2 separate regions of the Homo sapiens genome follow, and region 1 is linked to region 2. The links come from fine-mapping of genetic effects on gene expression. A gene starts in region 2. The other region holds a variant in brackets. All regions are shown on one strand. Distances are from middle to middle.

What was found. PIP is the estimated chance that this variant, and not a neighbour inherited with it, causes the effect. A credible set is the group of variants that fine-mapping cannot tell apart.
Region 1: its variant is the best candidate, but not a certain one, in a credible set for the expression of TMTC4 in whole blood (INTERVAL, PIP 0.71).

The regions. Positions count from the first base shown.
Region 1 is chr13:100,498,536-100,508,324 of GRCh38, forward strand. The region is part of intron 21 of PCCA (propionyl-CoA carboxylase subunit alpha); the gene reads left to right. Among named protein-coding and RNA genes, the nearest start is that of PCCA-AS1, 22 kb to the left of the region's middle. RefSeq lists an enhancer at 3,958-4,595. The variant C/A (reference allele first, on the strand shown) is at 4,960.
Region 2 is chr13:100,669,824-100,679,612 of GRCh38, forward strand. It overlaps TMTC4 (transmembrane O-mannosyltransferase targeting cadherins 4), which reads right to left and starts at 4,972. Exons shown (of 19, transcript NM_032813.5): 1 at 4,921-4,972; 2 at 537-746. The coding sequence starts at 539. RefSeq lists enhancers at 3,348-4,237, 5,563-5,642 and silencers at 4,353-4,432, 4,483-4,842, 4,873-5,372.

The sequences.
Region 1 (9,789 bases), 170 kb before region 2:
ACATACAATTCAGTGCATTTATTAACGTTCACAACGCTGTACAACCATCATCTCTCTCCAGTTCCAAGACGATTCATCACCCCAAAAGGAAACCCCATTTCCATTAAGTGATCACTCCCTATTCCCCCACCTCCCCCAGCAACCCCTAGCCTACTGTTTGCGTGTGACTTCTTCCACTCAGTATAACACTTCTGAGGTTCATCCACACTGGAGCATGTGTCTGGTCTTTGTAGGTTTATTCCACTACCAACCATGTTCTTTATGCTTAAAATAACTCCTCCCTATTGAACTGTTTTGGAGTGATATTTCCTGGGGTGGAGGTAGTTTAATGATTCATCTCTGTCTTGTTAGCATGCTTGTTTATGGTAGAGAGAAATTTTGTATTCTGCCACCATACCTTGTCAAAACCTTTTAACAAGGCATTGATTTGGTTCTCTGGTTCTGAGAACTTGGCAGTGGAAGACAAGACTTCCACCCGCATTGCAAGCAAAATCATTGATGTCAATTCACGTTATTGTGGAAAACCGTGAGTTGTGACAAGTGAAAGCTTTTCACCAAGCCACAAAACTATGGGCGTGTGCAGTCAACACACGGAACACAAGGGGTTTGCTTCCGTGGCTCAGCATAGCACTCTCTCACTAGTTCTAAAATATTCATAGCCTTTGCTGTTCCCAAAAGACGTTTGAAAAATAAGACTTCTCCTTTGTCAGCATCCGCGCTCACATAACTGGTGAAACTAGGAGATAGTTTTGTATCCCGGAAGATAATCATTGTTCCATTCAGGTGTTGGGCAGAGAGAAATGGCTTATCTGCACATCTGCAGGATGTAAGAGATTAGTGAAATATTTGTGATTCTGATGTTGATGACTTTTAATGTTTGACAGAGAAACTTTTGCAATTATTTTCTTCTGGTCCAGGCCTCACTCCTTCTAGCCCACATGGCTCTAGTCAACCTCCTTTAATCAGCAGAGTAATAGGCAAGACTGTAGTAGGATGCCTCAAGACAGACTTTTATGTTGGGACAAGTAGTGTCTTATTAAGGCGGTTCCAGCCTTTCATATCCTGCCTCCTTGGGATAAAGAGTGTTTGTTTACAGAGCTTCTGGGATAGACTGCTGCATGCTGCATCCGTACCTCTGTTGCAGAAGCACATCTGTCCCATTATGTCTAGTGACAAAAATAAGACCTACGCCTCAGTGAACTTTGCATACATCTGAATGTAAGCAAGACAAGTATATTTGACATTTTAAAAAGGTTTTTTCTTTCACAGTTTTCAAAATAACATAGGAGAAGCAAAGGAAAAAATATTTCTTGTGTTTCTAATTCACAGGTTGCTTGAGACTTTTTTTGGAGGTGCTAGCATTTTATTGGCCACAGTTTTGAAGGAAAATACAATGAAATCATGCTTCTGTCGTTTGGGGAAAAGGAATAACAGATTCATTTTTTCTTTTTTTAAAGATGAGAGAGATAGTATTTGGAATCTATCTTTAGACTATTCTACCTCTGAATCTAATTGAAGTAAGAAATTGGGCAAGAATGGAATCTTACTTACCACCCAGGAAAAAAGCTAAACAATTGTGGCTCAGTCCATTTTCCCCTGAGACTGTCTTCAGATTGAGGCGATCAGTGTTAAAATGGATGGAATCACCAGGCTCTCCACATTCTAGTAAGATTGTAGTACGGTTGAAAGTCAAATGAAAGTCCAGCTCTTCAGTGTGTCATTTCCTCTTGCAGACACCAGACCAAGGGCAGTGGTGGTCTGGCGCTTATATTTTGTTATTATTTGTTGAGACCAGAACTCTCCTTAAGGATATATTTATATATGTTTTAATATTAAAGTTTCTTTTCAAGGAATTTATACTAATTAGTTCATGTAATAATAACATGTGCATTCCATTTAAAGTTACCTTGCTAAATTTTCTAAGACTTGTTAGCTTCCCCATAGTTTTTAATAAACCAAAAGATCAAACGAACAGTCCCCAGTTGCCCAAATATTGAGCAGTTAAGGCTGGTTTCAGCTCATCTGAAATCTGTAAACATTTAAAGAGAACCTCTCTCCCAGAAGATAGTGAGCACGGTGGTATTCTCCAGTCTCAGAATATTAAGGTTACTTACAGACTAGAGAGGCCTTCAGTCTATATTAACGAGTTCCTTTCCTAATCTCACCCTTCTAAGAATATATTTGATCCAATTTAGGGACAGCAACATTGAGGCCAGAGAAAAATTAATGGGGTAGTAACTGTAGACACCAAAACACTCCCCAAATCTTGAGACATCAAATAAGCAAGACTGAATTTATGCAAAAGATACTTTAAAGATGTTTCTTTAGCTGGGCGCAGTGGCTCACGCCTGTAATCCCAGCACTTTGGGAGGCCGAGGCGGGTAGATCACAAGGTCACGAGTTTGAGACCAGCCTGGCCAATATGGTGAAACCCCGTTTCTACTAAAAATACAAAAATTAGCCGGGTGTGGTGGTGGGTGCCTGTAGTCCCAGCTACTCGGGAGGCTGAGGCAGGACAATTGCTTGAACCTGGGAGGCGGAGGTTGCAGTGAGCCAAGATCGCCAAGATCATGCCACTGCATTCCAACCTGAGCAACAGAGTGAGACTCTTAAAAAAAAGAAAAAATGTGTCACTCAGAGATTTTTCTACCTAGAACAAGAGTCATACATACTTTTTGAAATTATTTTATCTATGTAAACTTACGAGGTACAAGTGTAAATTTGTGACATGCATAGATTGAATAGAGAGGAAGTCAAGGCTTTTAGATATTCATCACCTGACTAATGTACATGGTACCCATTAAGTAATTTCTCATCATCCACCCTCCTCCCACCCCGTCACCCTTCTGAGTCTCCATTGTCTACTATCAGAAAAGCCTTCTCCAGCAGCGCATTGTCAGCTGAGTCTAGGAGAAGAAAGCCTTCTCATGGACATGAGCTAAATTCCCTGGGAAAGGCCATTCCATAATGGAGAAGGCCTTCTGTTCACCCACAGTGTGGTCCTCAGACCAGCAGCTTCAGCGTCTCCTGGGAACTCACTAGAAATGCAGACCCCAGGCCCAGTGTGGCAGCTCACGCCTGTAATCCCAGCACTTTGGGAGGCCGAGGCGGGTGGCTCACGAGGTCAGGAGTTTGAGGCCAGCCTGGCCAACATAGTGAAACCCCGTCTCTACTAAAAATACAAAAAAATTAGCCGGGCATGGTGGCGCATACCTGTAATCCCAGCTACTTGGGAGGCTGAGGCAGGAAAATCACTTGAACCCGGGTGGCGGAGGTTGGGCTGAGCTGAGATCGTGCCGCTGCACTCCAGCCTGGGCAACAGAGGGACACTCCTTCTCAATAAATAAATAAATAAATAAATAAATAAAATGCACCCAAACCTGAATTGGAAACTCAGGTGGGGGGCCTAGCGGTCTGTGGTTTTACTAGCCCTCCAGGCAAGTTTTGATGCTTTGGTGATTGAGAACTGCTGCTTATGCTGTCTTGGTGGAGAGCACTTCAGCCAGTGCCTCTTCTGCTGATTCTGTATTTATCAAAGAACCACTGACTATAATTTAGTGCTCACACTACAGTTAGGAGGTGTGTGAGTTCCCTTTACAAACCTATTTCTGATTGTAAATTCCTAAGATGTTTTACACATCAGTATCTTGTGAGCTTGATAAAAGTGAATCCATCTCGTTCAGAGTGATGCATTATGAGTGTATAGTGGAAGTCTAGCTTCTAAGCCTGTGAAACAGAGGCCCAGCCCCCTGATCCAGGCAGATTTCACTAAGGTAGAGGCCAGGGTAGATGTCCCTGCTGAACGGGCACCCTCTCATCCCACCTCACCCTGGCTGTGTGTACTGTATATTTTTAACCAAGAGGAGAGCAGAGCGGCACAGAATGGCTGGTACTCAGTATTCCTGGTTTCTGGATTATACAGATGCAAGGGAAATGTCTCCTAGTCTTATTTCATGAGTTACTGTGTAGCATTATTGAATTGCAGTGGTAAGAGGGTTAGGTAGGCCTTTCTCATTTTTGATTAGACAGCTATCATTTACAAATTAGACCACAGGGAATCGACCTTAACTTCTGTGACTAAAGCTTTTGGCAGTTACTTTTGGCATTTCTGGCCCTCTAGACTTGAAAATGACTGAGTGGTTACAATTTACAAAGTTAAGAGAGCTTTCTGTTGATTGGTGTGAATGGTAGGATATGAGACAGACTCTTAGGAGTAAAGGACAGGGATTTAGGGAAAATCCTAGTGGAGTCACTGCAGCCAGGCAGAGTTGTCTGTTACATGCAGATAACAAGTCACGCTGTTGGGGTTAATTAGAAAAAGAGGAAACAAAGTTGAGAAAAGAAGAGGGAGGCAGAGCAGACGGCAGAGGACAGGAATTTTCAGTGCAGCGTTGGGAAAGGTTGTGGAAGCTGAGGCTGACGCAGACCTAGGGCGTTAAAGCTGTATTTACAGCTGGACCTTCTGATTCCTGGGGAGGAGGGGAGGCTGGATCGTGGGTAAGAGAGACTGGCAGGGCCAGTGGAGGATACTCTCCCACTGGAGTTGTCCAGTGGGAGTTGTCTGGAGTTGTCCTGGGCAGAGGCTGCCTGTTGACAGAGGCTCAGCACAGCCATGCTTAAGATAAGCTAGCTAAGCAGGTACGAGGAAAAATAATTTACCTGAAGTTCTTTCTGGCCGGGCGCAGTGGCTCACGCCTGTAATCCCAACACTTTGGGAGGCCGAGGTGGGTGGATCACCTGAGGTCGGGAGTTCAAGACCAGCCTGACCAACATGGAGAAACCCTGTCTCTACTAAAAATACAAAATTAGTTGGGTGTGGTGGCGCGTGCCTGTAATCCCAGCTACTCGGGAGGCTGAGGCAGGAGAATCACTTGAACCCAGGAGGTGGAGGTTGTGGTGAGCCGAGGTTGCGCCATTGCACTCCAGCCTGGGCAACAAGAGCGAAACTCCATCCCCCCC[C/A]AAAAAAGAAATTATAATAAAATAAAGTTTTTTCTGTATTAAACATCTTGTGTTTAAAAGTCTACAGTGAGTCAAGGATGTTGAATGGCCAAAGATCATAAATCTCTCCCTCTTTAAATGAGCTGTGGGCTGGGCACAGTGGCTTATGCCTGTAATCCCAACACTTTGGGAGGCTGAGGGGCATGGATCGCTTGAGCCTAGTAGTTCGAGACCAGCCTGGGCAACATGGCAAAACTCTGTCTTTACAAAAAATTTAAAAAAAAATTAGCCGGGCATGGTGGCATGTGCCTATGGTCTCAGCTACTTGGGAGACTGAGGTGGGAGGATCACATGGGCTGAGGAGGTTGAGGCTGCAGTGAGCTGTGATCACACTACTGCACTCCAGCCTGAGTGACAGAGTGAGATCCTCAATAATAAGCAGTCTTCAGTGTTTCATTTTACCCAGGCTAAATGTATTTGTAGTATACATATATGTTTATATTTTGATAGATTCATGTGAGTAAAAGATATACAATAAAAATTGACATTACCGAAGGGGAGTGGGATTAGATGTGAGAGGGTGGATTAGTAAATTGTTTTACACACCTCTTTACCATTGGACTTGTTACAATAAGCCTATAACTATTTTTAACTCCATAAAATACATTGTTTTATAAGAGCTGTCAAATTTCACTTGCTCAGTCCCCTGATTCTCATTTTCTTATAAAATCTCAGGTTCCTCAAATATGAATTCTTCTGCCATGAGAAATTAGCAACATAGTCTTAAAGTCTGGGGAAAGATTATAGTCAGATCCACATAGATAGGACAACGTTCCAAGTCGGGAGAATGTTCATATGAGAATTGAATAGAAGGCCAAATTTTTAGGCTAAGAATATGATCAGAGGACACTTCCAGTGGAGAGAGTCAGCGTGAAGAGTTGAGGTGCATGGCTGTTGTGCATCTGAGAGCGTGTACGCGGGCGTGAGAGCGATTTAGATCCCTGTGTGTTGAATTCGAGACCCACCCAGACAGCCTCCAGTGTCTTCTCAGTGACTGTGCCCAAGATTTCTGTCCATCTGTGGACATGTTTTAATGACAGCAATTAGTGGTAATGATGGCTATTAAATACTTAATGACATTTCTGTGTTCTGAGGCTTCTTCATACAAGAATTCACTTACTGGCCGGGCACCGTGGCTCACACCTGTAATCCCAGCACTTTGGGAGGCTGAGGTGGGCAGATCAAGAGGTCAAGAGATTGAGATCACCCTGGCTAACATGGTGAAACCCCATCTCTACTAAAAATACAAAATAGCTGGGTGTGGTGGAACGTGCCTGTAGTCCCAACTACTCGGGAGGCTGAGGCAGGAGAATCACTTGAACCTGGGAGGCGGAGGCTGCAGTGAGCCAAGATCATGCCACTGCACTCCAGCCTGGGTGACACAGAGAGAGACTCTGTCTCAAAAAAAAAAGAATTCACTTACTTTCCACAGAAGCAGGCACTGTTATGATCCACAGTTCATAAAGAAGGAATCTGAGACATGGAAAGTCGACCTTTCCCAAGCTTGTAAGTGGAACAGTATTCTGACTCCAGATCCTAAATGGTAAACCACTACTCTCTGCTGCCTCGCAGCCTGGAGATTTTCTGTAAGAGAGGGGCTAAAATAAAAAAGCCCACCTCATATTGATCACATTCTTAGTAATCCTTGAATACGTTTATATTGTGTCATTCATGAATGTCTTTTCCCTCTGGCCAGATTATGGTATTTAGGTCAGGAGCCATTTTTTCTTGTTTATTTTGTATTCTTACATTGCCCAGATATGCTCGATAAATGGTTTTTGAATGAATTAACCAAACTGTTTCTCTAATTCACTATGCTTTTAACTGTCTAAGGAAAAGACAACCGTGGGGTCCCTCGCTGCATGCCTGGGAACCTCTCTGAACACGGAATCAACTTCCTTTCTTTGATTTTAGAGCCAGATGTGATGTTTGAAGAATGTAATCTATTTGCTCTCAAACATGGAGAGCATAGAGCTAGAACTCCAACAATTAGAAGTTAATCTGAGATGTCCTACAATACATGATTTTAAAATAAAATCCACCAGTGTCAGTCTGGTGCAGTGACTCATGCCTGTAATCCCAGCACTCTGGGAACCTGGGGCGGGCGGATCCCTTGAGCCCAGGAGTTCAAGACCAGCCTGGGCAATGTGGCAAAACCCCATCTCTACAAAACATACTCAAACACTAAGCAGGCATGGTGGCGTCTGCCTGTAGTCCCAGGTACTTGGGAGTCTGACGTGGGAGGATCACTTGTGCCCAGGAGGTCGAGGCTGCAGTGAGCCATGCCTGGGTGCCAGAGTGGTACCCTGTTTCTCTGCCCACCCTCCCCCATCCCCCCCAAAAAAATCCACCACTCTTTCATTCTGAACAACCAGAGATGTTTGGAAAGGACACAGGAAATAATACCTGGTGAATAGTTACTCTCGAGCACTTGCTAGGTGCGCTGCAGATCTTCGTAAATTTAATCCTCAAAACAGTTACTCAAGACCTGTATTAGCTTGATTTTAGAGTTGACATCTGTCTGAGAAGGAGGTAACTTGGTCAGAAGGTGCCATCTCGTTGGGATGTCACAGTCGGGCCTGTTGGCTTCAGAGACTTGGGCTTTCATGCTCTGCTGCTGCCAGGACGGGGGCCACATCGCCCTGTCTCCCGATTTCTCCCATGGCTCTCCAGGACTTGGCCACCTTCAGCATCGTGTGTTCTGTACACAGCACAGCATGAGGGTGCCAGCAGTCCTCCTTGGCTCAGCGTCTAGGATGTGTCAGAACTGTAAACCCCAAGATTCTTAGGCAACCCCCCTACCAGCGCTCATTTCTGCTACTTCAGACCAGAAACCTTCGCGGGCGGGGGTGGGGGCGGGGGCGGCGGGGGTTTCAGTTGCTTTCTGCTTCAGTTTTCTTGGCCGACGGTCTACCTCACAGTATCACAGTCATCTTTACTTTCGTTTACTCTGCCTTTCTGTATTTTAGTTTCTGAATTTCTGTCCCATAAAGCCAGCATTTAGGCATTTTGAATTTTGAGTTTCTTCAGTGAATTCATAATAGTAAAAATATTTAAGAAAACCTGTAAAGGCAAGATTGTTGTTGAAGCCCCTCACATTAGAACACTTCCCAGGTGCTCCAACCTGGGGGGGACTGAGGACTTACATGGGAAGTCAGAGCTCCCCATCTTTTTTCCCCAAAGGTCATTCATTCTGACAGCATGACTTCAACTTGATATGAGCAAAGAGCATTTCAGATAGGAGGAGAAAAAGGAAGAGGGTTGGGCACCGTCGTGAAATGGTACACTTCCTCACCGCGGTGCTTATCTACATAATTGTGTTTTTATAACATTTCCTTTACTTTTCTGTAAGCTGATGCTGCCCTAATTATAGATTTTTAAGAGAACACTTCATTGTACCCCAAATTATACAGTGCTTTAAAAAGGTACTTTCTTACCGGTTTACCAAATACCTTATAAATTCGTAATTACATAAAACAATTCGAGATACAGAATAGAAACAGCCTGTACTGTTAACAGGTGTTGGTATTGTTATATAATTGAGTACATGGCTTTCAAAGATCTATAATATTTTTCTTGAGTAAAAAGAAAAAAATGACTCATTATAGTCGTAATGTGTCACAGAGACTCCTGATCAAACAGAATGCACATGTTCTATTTTGTGCATTCTGTACAGTTCATTGTAAATGGACTTGCCTTTGTGGAAGTGAAAGTGCCACTTATTCCAGCAAATTGCCTTTGTGGCATATGCACCTACTTGTTAGACAGCTTGGGGGCACTTGGGCCAGGCAGAGGCTGGGCCCCCTTTATCATGGGCACACCTGCACACATGGCACTATGGCGCCACACTCCAGGTAGGCTGCTGTCATTAACAGACTTGCTCCTTGGGAAACCCACTGAGGACTTCTCAGTGCCCTCCTGCCCATCAGAGACCACCTCGGAATTCTTAGAAGACTAGGAATGGGGCAGCTTCCTAGACGCTAGCTCTTTTCCCGCCACATCAGTTTTAGGCCTCTCTTATGATACAAGTGATTCAGATTACAAGGTAACCTCAGTGCAACACAAGGGAAGAAATAAATCCTCTCTGTTATTGAGTGCTGGGTCTAGTGTTTAATTTTCTTTCTTTTCTTTTCTTTTTCTTGAGACAGAGTCTCGCACTGTGGCCTGGGCTGGAGTGCAGTGGCGCGATCTCGGCTCCCTGCAACCTCCACCTCCCAGGTTCAAGCGATTCTTCTGCCTCAGCCTCCCGAGCAGCTAGGATTACAAGCGCCCACCACCACGCCTGGCTAATTTTTTGGATTTTTAGTAGAGACGGGGTTTCACTATGTAGGCCAGGCTGTTCTTGAACTCCTGACCTCATGATCCTCCAGCCTTGGCCTCCCAAAGTGCTGGGATTATAGGTGTGAGCCACCGCACCCAGCCTAGTGTTTAATTTTCAATTTAATTTTTGGCACTATTTTTTTTTAAGTTGCTCATCTTAGGACAGTATAACTGGAATGAGCCTTGTGTTTCCAGTTACAAAAACAAGACAGAACAAAGGATGAGGCTAGATTTTTGTATTATTGACAACCCCATATTCTTCCCTCCAGAGGAGAGATCATCTTTCGGAAGCAAGCCCGAGATACACACAGTCTTACCCATTCCTTCAATGCTGTTGATGATTAGCCTTAAGATGGTTCTTTTCTCTAAGGAAACCCTCCCCATTTTTGCAGGATGTTTGAAAAATGAGTTGCTGAATGGGCTTCAGATATTCTTATTCTTCTGTTTTGTTGGGATTTTCTTCCCACTCCT
Region 2 (9,789 bases):
TTTACCAGGATCAGGTTTGGGTAAGACTGCTCGGTTCTGACCTGGGGTACCTCTGGCAACTTACTTGACCTCTCTGGGCCTGTTTCCTCAACACTAAAATGGGGATGGTAAGAGTGCCTACCTTCTAGAGTTGTCATGAGGGTTAAATAGGATTCCCAGCACTGCCTGGCTGTAATGAAGGCTCAGGGGAGGCCGGCTACTATTACTAATACTTTCTTCCAGAAGGCTGAAAGCAGAGGCACAGAATGATTTTCTGTGGGAAATCCCTTTTAGTAGCTGGTTGATTGGTACCGAGGCTCCTGTCTTTACTAAGGGACCTGGACCCTGTTCTTTTCCTGCTGAGATGAAAGAGAATTCCAGCCCCCTGATTGGGAAGGCAGTTTGGATGTATTTGTTTCTGGATCTCTAAGTGGATACCCCAGATTATGGAATCAATAAGAAGCCAGCCAAATAGGCCACCTGAAGTCACAGGCATCTTTCTATAGCCTTCTGTCTGAGTGAAGATGGAGACAGATCCAACAGGCAACGGGACACACCATTCCATGGTGATGCTGTCCCCTTCCAGGGGCCAGAAGGAGGCTCAGATTTACAATCCAGAGATGAAACAGGCCGCAACTCTTCCACTGCTTGTCTCTCGAGCCTCACAGCCTGGCATACGGCATGCTCTCAGCAAGTGCTGGGGGAATACTGCAGCTACTTTTCTTTTCCAGTCAAAGGATAAACCACTTCTCGAATCTAAATTACAACTGCAAACACAACACAGGTTAGCACACAGACCCCAACCTCTATGCTTACATTTCAGCTAAAGAAATTACTCCTGCTACTTAAAAAACAACAAATCAAGGCTGGTTGCAATGGCTCACGCCTGTAATCCCAGCACTTTGGGAGGCCGAGGCCGGTGGATGGCTTGAGCCCAGAGGTTCGAGACCAGCCTGGGCAACAAGGTGAAACCCCGTGTCTACAAAAAAAAATACAAAAATTAGCTGAGTGTGGAGGCGTATGCCTGCAGTCCCAGCTACTCAGGAGACTGAGAGGTGCGAGTATTGCTTGAGCCCAGGAGTTCCAGGCTGCAGTGAGCTGAGATCACACCTCGGCTCTACAGCATGGGCAACAGAGTGAGACCCTGTCTCAAACAACAACAAAGCCCAACAAAGCCAAATACTGAATAGTTAGGAAGATACTATGATTTAACATGGGGAGAAATTTTAGAAAATTAAATGTGAAGGAAAACAAATAATTTATAGCAATTTTAAATGCACAATAGAGTCATGAGCTGACAAAAGGTCATGTAACCGGTTTTGACGTTATCTGTTTTATTGTTTCAATAGTGAATTTATTGGCTCATGCAATATATTTTTGGAGATGGCGTCTTGCTATGTTGCCCAGACTAGCTTCAACTTTTGGGCACAAGTAACCCTCCTGCCTCGGTCTCCCAAGTAGCTGGGACTATAGGAGTGTGCCACTGAGCCTGGATATTATCTGCTTCAGGCTCAAATATTTGAAAATTATTTCACAAACGTTTGTCAAGGTTCAAATGGCCTTCTAAGTAGAATACTAAATCAGGAAATACTTTGTGCTCCTAAATTAGCGACTGTACCTCAGATTGCTTAGAACATAAACGTGTTCTAAGCAATATGTTCTAAGCATAATCATGTTCCAAGCCACAGCCCCAGGATATATAAGGCAGACTGTGGACCACACCATCAACGAGATGCCCTGGTAGGAGGCCAGGTCCAGACTCTTGGGAAGTCAAGTGGATGGCTGACTCAGTGGATCTCAGATGATCTCCTCCTCTGCTCTTGCAGGGACAGCAGGAAACCTGGCCTACCTCCAACGCCCCTGCCCCTACATCATTTCCCAGTTCTGGCTGGCTCTCCCCTCCTTGCTGTGACTCCCCTGCTTCTCTATCTCAGGGGGCTCCTTCTCCTTTCTCCAAGGCCTCCCACTTCTTTGCTGCCACTGAAAATACTCACAAATGCTCTTTTCTTTGAAGGGATTTACTGTTAACGTACATAGTGGAACAGTTTGGAAAATGCCTTTCACTAGCAAACGCAAAAAAAAAAAAAAAAAAGCTACAATTTGTTAGAAAGCCAGGCAAAGTGATCAGTCTAGTCCAGTGGTTGAGACCAAAGGCTCTGGTGACGGACAAACCTGGACTTGCCGGCTGCACGACCTTGAACTGCTTAGTCTTTCTAAGAATCAATTTCCTCACTGGCACAACACAGTACCACCACCACTTTCTTCAGAAGGTGGTGGTAAGGATTAAAGGAGAAAATGTATGCAAACAACTAGTTCTCATTATTGTTAGATTTTGGAGAAATTAGCCGCTGCTTCCCAGTCCCTGACTGCCTGTCTCGGGCGCACCCATGTTGCCAGTGTTTATTCCTGCAGATGGGCTGAGCACTAGGGCCAGCAGTAGCCCATCGGGTGACCTGGTGCGACTGAGAAAGGCGGGCCCTTCTTTTGGGCAGACCCGGGGCACATGGCTTCCTTGGTCAGGTGTCTGGCACAAACTGTACAACCATGCACAGTGACCTTGTTCCCAACTCTCCTTCCTCCAACACTAAACGACTTCTGTTCCTCAATGACCTGAGCCAGGCCTGGCACTCAGTTAAAAGAAGCCCTGTCTGAGCAAGGTGGCAGAGACGGGGGACCACCCTCTCTACATCCCTTCCCCCCTTTTTTTGAACAGGGTTTCACTCTGCCACCCAGGCTGGAGTATAGTGGTATGATCATAGCTCACCACAGCTTCACCTTACTGGGCTCAAGGGACCCTTCCACCTCAGCCTCCCAAGTAGCTGGGACTATAGGCATATGCCACCATGCCTGGCTATTTTAAATATTTTTTTGTAGAGACAGGGTCTCACTATGTTGCCCAGGCTGGAATCAAACTCCTGGCTTCAAGCGATCCTCCTGCCTCAGCCTTCCAAAGCATGGGGATTACAGGTGTGAACCACCGTGCCCGGCCTCCACCATTTTTTACAGTCAGGACATGAAATAGGAAAGGATGCTCTGTTTTCTTCCAGATGGGCCCTAGGTTGAACTTTCTGGTCCCTCTTCTCCACATGATGTCCTGCCTGGGCTCCCTGGCTCCTCTGCCATAGCTGGATCGTTAGTTCACCTTATGAAGCAACAAAAAGAGAGACCCACTGTGGCCTCTGCTACAGGCCAAGCAGAGGGCACAACCCAGGAGGAATGAAGTCAGTGTTCTGCTCGCTACCTGACTCCTGCGACAGAATCAACTGGCCCCTCAACAGGGGCTGAATCTGGAACAAAGCAGACGTCCCTTTATCCTACAATTTCTCAAACTTCTCATATCGAGCCTCTGTTTTCAGGAGGTTAAAACAAATTAATCATCAGTGAGAAGGCCAAAAAGACCCCACACAGGGACCCCAGAAAAACAAATGTCATCCAGCTGTGAACCATGAGGGCCCAATGACAGCTGACACGGCAGCCTGGACTGCGGTAAACAGAATGGCGAGACCAAACCTAAATGTTTCCCCTTGGAAAAATTAGCAGCAGCCACCTACAGAAGAATATTCCCCTCCATGCATCCAGGGGCCTGCTGACCTCTGCCCAGCCTTTCTACCTCATCTGTAACATTCAATCACATAGCCAGCCATCCTATGCACGCTGAGAGGTGACAGCGCCTCTGGGAATCAGATTAGAGAACACAATCGTTTGTGACCCTGCATCCCTGGGCCTGGCAGTTTCCTGACTGATCAGACCCTGGGCCCCTCAAGGCAGGGGCGCGAGCCACCACCACCGCCCTCCTCCGTGCAGTGCTGAATACATGCTACTGAAGGCTAAGGTATCGTCCTGCTGTGACGGCCTTCCCATTTTATAATTCAGTAGCGCACGAGGGCCATGGCTGCCTATAGCAAGAATGTGTGTGGTTTGATATTCACAGTTCCACTGTCCCAGAAAGTTTCCAGTTTGCTAGCTTGTAGCCATTTCCCCTATCTAGGTGCACTGGCCGTGATTTTACCCCACTCCATCTGGGGCGCGCCCGGCGCAGACAGGACTGCAGAGAAAAGGGACAGGGAGGGGACCTAGTCAGTCCCTACTATAACTGTTTCTCAAGACATTCTCCCCATGCATTTATTTGCTCTCCCGGGGAAAGAGCGAAGTGTGGGATGACTCATAGTGGCTAGATCGTTCCTCTAACTCCTCCCTTCTTTTGTGTGTGGTTTAAAAAAAAGAAAAACACACACGCAGCCCATAGCCACAACATCAACAAGACCAGAAGCCCCGCAGAGTTCGCAGGAGGTGGGCAGTGGCTGCGCCACCTGCTCGGCTTCCCCAAACTCCGAGCCCACGCCGGGAAGCGGCGGCTCGGTGGCCCCGGGCGCCCGGGCCGGTGGCCCCGCGCTCGCGCCGCTCCGCTCCGCAGCCGAGCGTGGAGTAGCAGGCGCTCGCGGCGCGGCGGGGGAGCCGCCGCGGAACCCAGGGCAGGCGGCCAAGCGGCCCGGCTGTGTCCAGCCATCGCCTGCGCCGCGGCCAGCTGGCGGCCAGGCGCGGGGCCCCGCGGCCAGATGGCCGCTCCGGGGACGCGCCGCAGGCGCCGGGTGCGCCCGGGCCGAGGGAGCGCCGGCGCGGCTGTGCAGGCAGGGGCTGGGGGCGGCGACCTCTGCCCGGGCGGAGAAGCTCAGGGGCCCGAGCGCGGCGGGCGGGGCGCGCAGCCTCCACGCCGCGCCCTTTGTCCCATGTGCGGCTCACACAGGGGCCCGCGTCCCCCGTGACCCCGGCCCGGGCCGCAGCTCAGGTCCCGGAACCAACTCCTCCAGCAGCGCCGCTCTGGCCCGGGCCGCCGTGCGGGGCTCGGGACACGGCGGCAGCGGGGAACCCGCGCCCGCTCCGCGTCCAACTCCGCTCGCCCCGCGGCGCGCTCGGCCCTGCAGGGGCCGCCCCGCGCGTTACCTGCAAGGAGCCTGAGCCCCGGCCGCATCTCCCTCCCGGGTGCGGAAACTCTGGCGGCTCCAGGCACCCGCCCGGACCTGGCAGGGGGAGGGGCCGCCCGCCGCGCACCCGACCCCCCCCGCGCCGCGCCTCCCGCAGCTCCCCACGCGCGCGGGCGCCCCCCAGCACCAGTCTCGGCCCGCCCCCTCCGCCCGACCATTGGCTGCTGCTCCCGTCACTTTCAGGCCACAGCCAAGTCCCTCCTCAGCTCATTGGCGGACGCGCCGGTGACGTCAGGCCAGGGGGCGCTAGTCGGCGGCGAAGGAGGCGCAGGGACAGACGGACCCGGCGGGAGAGGAGGAAGCCGGGTTGTGGGCGCGGAGCTGAGGCGGAGGCGGGGCCGGGGCGGGAAGGGGCGGCCCCAGCTGGGTCGGGCGAGGCTGGCTGCGGGAAACCGAGTGAGCCCTCGCTTTTCCTCCGGGGTCCGCGCGCGGGACCCTATTTCTGGCCTGTCTCGCGCTTCGCCTGCGCGGTGGTCTCCACGCTGGGACTGCGGCGTCCTCGCAGAACAGCCAGAACTCCACTTCTTCCTGTCCGGGAGGAGTTGTTTAAAACATGCGTATCTCCACCTTCTGCTTCTTAGAACAGAACTGACTGAAGCCGTGTTCTTCCCGCCGAGACCATGCCGCCCCATCGACCCTGCTGCGGCCAGAGCCACCCAGGGCGGGCCCACTCACCGCAGGCTCGGGCCACTTGGTTCCAAACCTCCACTCCCATCCAGGGGCCCGGCACACCCACCACACTCCCACTCTCAGAGGTCTTTGCCGCCTGCTTCAGGAGAAAAGAGAAACTTCCACTTTCCACCGGCAAAACTGCACACCTGCTCCCTCCATCACCGAGCCCCCCCCCCCACCTTCTGTTTTTCCAGTATCGCAGAATCCGATCCGTTGCTCCCTCTGGACTGGAATCCGTATCCTCGGCATTTCATCATTCCAAGATTCTCTACTCCACGTACCCTTGCTGCCACCCTCTTCTACTTTCCATCGCTGAAGTTGGTGAAAGAGGCGCCTGCCCCCAGTTTTGTGGTCTCTCAACTCCACGTGTTCGTTTTCACACTCGGTGAAATTGCCTTTTTAATTGTCGCAAGTAGCATCCACATCACTAAAGTCAAAGGACACTCTCCTTTCTCGTGTTAACTGATCTGAGCAAAATTCCTTCTTTCTCCTTAAAACACGTCTTCCTGTGGCGGGGGTGCTCCACTTTCCTGTCTGTCCCCAGTCTTGGCGTGCTTGTCTACTCTGGGTGACCACCAAATAACAGAGTTTTCAAGGTCTCAGACCTTTCCTCTTACTCCACAATTTTTCCCTGAATGATTTAACCTGCTGTCAACATTTAAATCAATATATCCCAAATTTGCAACTCTAATCTTTGCTCCTCTGAGCTCCAAATCCGTTTATCTAGCTTCCTATTCAGCTACTCCTGGTAACAAGCACCTCAAATGGAACCCATCCAAAACTGAATGCGTCCTTTCCCTGCTTGCTTTCAACTCCCTGTCTCCCTGTGATAGTGAAGACACCACTATCCAGTGTTTCCCAAACTCTGCCTTCACCTCGGCATCTAACAAATCGCCAAGATTCTACTTCCTAAATAACTCTGAAGTCTGTCCACTTCCTACCATTTCCAGTATTACGTATCATAATGTGCTTACTGCACGTGCGTTTTCCCGGCCCACACTCAGTGATGTCTCGTTGGTAGACTGTAATGGGCCATGGTCGAAGTATTTACACCATGGAAATTAGCCAACATTATGAATCATGAATCAGGGATCGATTTGTTTTGCTGATTGTCTCTAGACTTCAGAAAGTGATGGGGAAGATGTTAATAATGTAGATTAAACTTAAAAATGTGTTTAGTGCTGAAACAAGATTGCAGTTTAATGAGTTTATACAAGGGTAAGAAGTAGTTTAACAGATCACATATCAGATTTAAGGACAATAAATTTGTTGGCAAAAAGTGGATCGGTATGTAATTTCACTAGTCACATCATGGTTGAGTTACAAGCATTGGATGGATTCAGATACAAGCCTTTGGCAAAAAAGAAGCAAAGCTTTCTGTGAGAATCAGTCAAGTAGATAGAACTGACAATAAAGAGTGTCTGCCTTTTACTTGTGTATTGTTTATTACACATCCTTTATATCAGAAACATTTATAACACACATATGGTTGTATATATAGGTGGAAATAAAAAGCAGATGAGATTTTAGTCAGTTTTTTTTTTTATACTTTTAAGTTCTAGGGTACATGTGCAGAACGTGCAGGTTTGTTACATAGGTATGTATGTGCCATGTTGGTTTGCTGCACCCATCAAGTTGTCATTTACATTAGGTATTTCTCCTAATGCTATCCCTCCCCCAGCACCCCACCCCCTGACAGGCCCCGGTGTGGGTGCGTGAGGTTCCCCACCCTGTGTCCATGTGTTCTCATTGTTCAAGTCCCACCTATGAGTGAGAACATGTGGTGTTTGGTTTTCTGTCCTTGTGATGCTTTGCTCAGAATGATGGTTTGCAGCTTCATCCATGTCCCTGCAAAGGACATGAACTCATCCTTTTTTATGGCTGCATAGTATTCCATGATGTATATGTGCCACAGTTTATTAATCCAGTCTATCGCTGATGGACATTTGGGTTGGTTCCAAGTCTTTGCTATTTTAAATAGTGCTGCAATAAACATACGTGTGCATGTGCCTTTATAGTAGTGTGAGTTATAATCCTTTGGGTATATACCCAGTAATGGGATCGCTGGGTCAAATGGTATTTCTAGTTCTGGATGCTTAAGGAATAGCCACACTGTCTTCCACAATGGTTGAACTAGTTTACACTCCCACCAACAGTATAAAAGCGTTCCTGTTTCTCCACATCCTCTCCAGCATCTGTTGTTTCCTTAATTTTTAATGATAGCCATTCTAACTGGCATGAGATGGTATCTTATTGTGGTTTTGATTTGCATTTCTCTGATGGCCAGTGATGATGAGCATTTTTTCATGTGTCTGTTGGCTGCATAAATGTCTTCTTTTGAGAAGTGTCTGTTCATATCCTTTGCCCACTTTTGGATGGGGTTGTTTTTTTCTTGTAAATTAAGTTCTTCGAAGATTCTGGATATTAGCCCTTTGCCAGATGGGTAGATTGCAAACATTTTCTCCCATTCTGTAGGTTGCCTGTTCACTCTGATGATAGGTTCTTTTGCTGTGCAGAAACTCTTTAGTTTAATTAGATCCCATTTGTCAATTTTGGCTTTTGTTGCCATTGCTTTTGGTGTTTTAGACATGAAGTCCTTGCCCATGCCTATGTCCTGAATGGTATTGCCTAGGTTTTCTTCCAGGGTTTTTATGGTTTTAGGTCTAACATTTAAGTCTTTAATCCATCTTGAGTTACTTTTTGTATAAGGTGTAAGGAAGGGATCCAGTTTCAGCTTTCTACATATGGCTAGCCAGTTTTCCCAGCACCATTTATTAAATAGGGAATCCTTTCCACATTGCTTGTTTTTGTCAGGTTTATCAAAGAGATGGAGACTTGCTGTGTTGCCCAGGCTGGAGTGCAATGGTGCAATCTCAGCTCACTGCAACCTCCACCTCCCAGGTTCAAGTGATTCTCCTGCCTCAGCCTCCCGAGTAGCTGGGATTACAGGCACCCACCACCATGCCCAGCTAATTTTTGTATTTTTAGTAGAGACGGGGTTTCACCAGGTTGGCCAGGCTGGTCTCGAACTCCTGACCTCAGGTGATCCACCCGCCTCGACGTCGTAAAATGGTGGGATTACAGGTGCGAGCCACCACGCCTGGCCTAGTCAGTTTTATTATTGTCAACTCTCTATAGACAATGCACACCTTATTTCCTGCCTTCAGGGTGGCTTGCCCCCACACGGCCCCTCTTGGTGGGCTCCTGCTTCCCAGTACTCTTAGATTGAAGGCCTCAATCTTTCATGATCTGCAATGCCACAGCATGATCAGGCTGCTTGCCTGCTGCTCCTGAGTCATCTCATGCCTCTCTCTCCTGCATTCCCTAGGCCCCAGCCATGTTGGCCTTCTTGCATCCTCTGGTGTGTTCTGAGCTCATTTGCATCCTGGGCTGTGCAGGTGCACCTGCAGCGCTCCCTCCTATCCTCCTCCATCACACCTGGCTACCTCCAATTTAGAGGTCTCCAACTCTCCAGGGCCGCGGATGGGTACCTGTCTATGGCTTGTTAGGAACCCGGGCAGCACAGCAGGAAGTGAGCCTGCCAAGCGAGCAGTACCATCTGAGCTCCACCTCCTGTCAGATCAGCAACGGCATTAGATTTTCGTAGCAGTGGGAACCCTACTGTGAACTGTGCATGCGAGGGATCTAGGTTGCAAGCTCCTTATGAGAAAGAATCTAACTAATGCCTGATGATCTGAGGTGGAAGTTTCATCCCGAAACCATTGCCCCAACTCCATCCATGGAAAAATTGTCTTCCACGAAACTGGTCCCTGGTGCCAAAAAGGTTGGGGAGCAACCTTTTGCTGCCCTAATTAATTCTTCAGGTCACTACTCAAGTGTCATCTCCTCTGAAAACCCTTCCCTGAATTATCTCCCCAAACACATGTAGGTCCATCTGTATATACTCTCATAGCTTTTATTAAAACTGTAATTAACTGACAGTGTGGCCATTTGTGTAAAGTCTATCTCCAACTATCTCACTAGACTGTAAGTGCCATGAAGGCAAGACCCATGTCTGTGTAGTTAACTCCTGCACCCCTGCAGCTACTGTGCCTACCACACAGCAGGCATTTAACAAGGTATCTCCCAGAGAAGCACAACTCTTAAAGTCGCGTTACATGTTATTGGCAATACTGGAGTTAGAATCAGAGTCTCC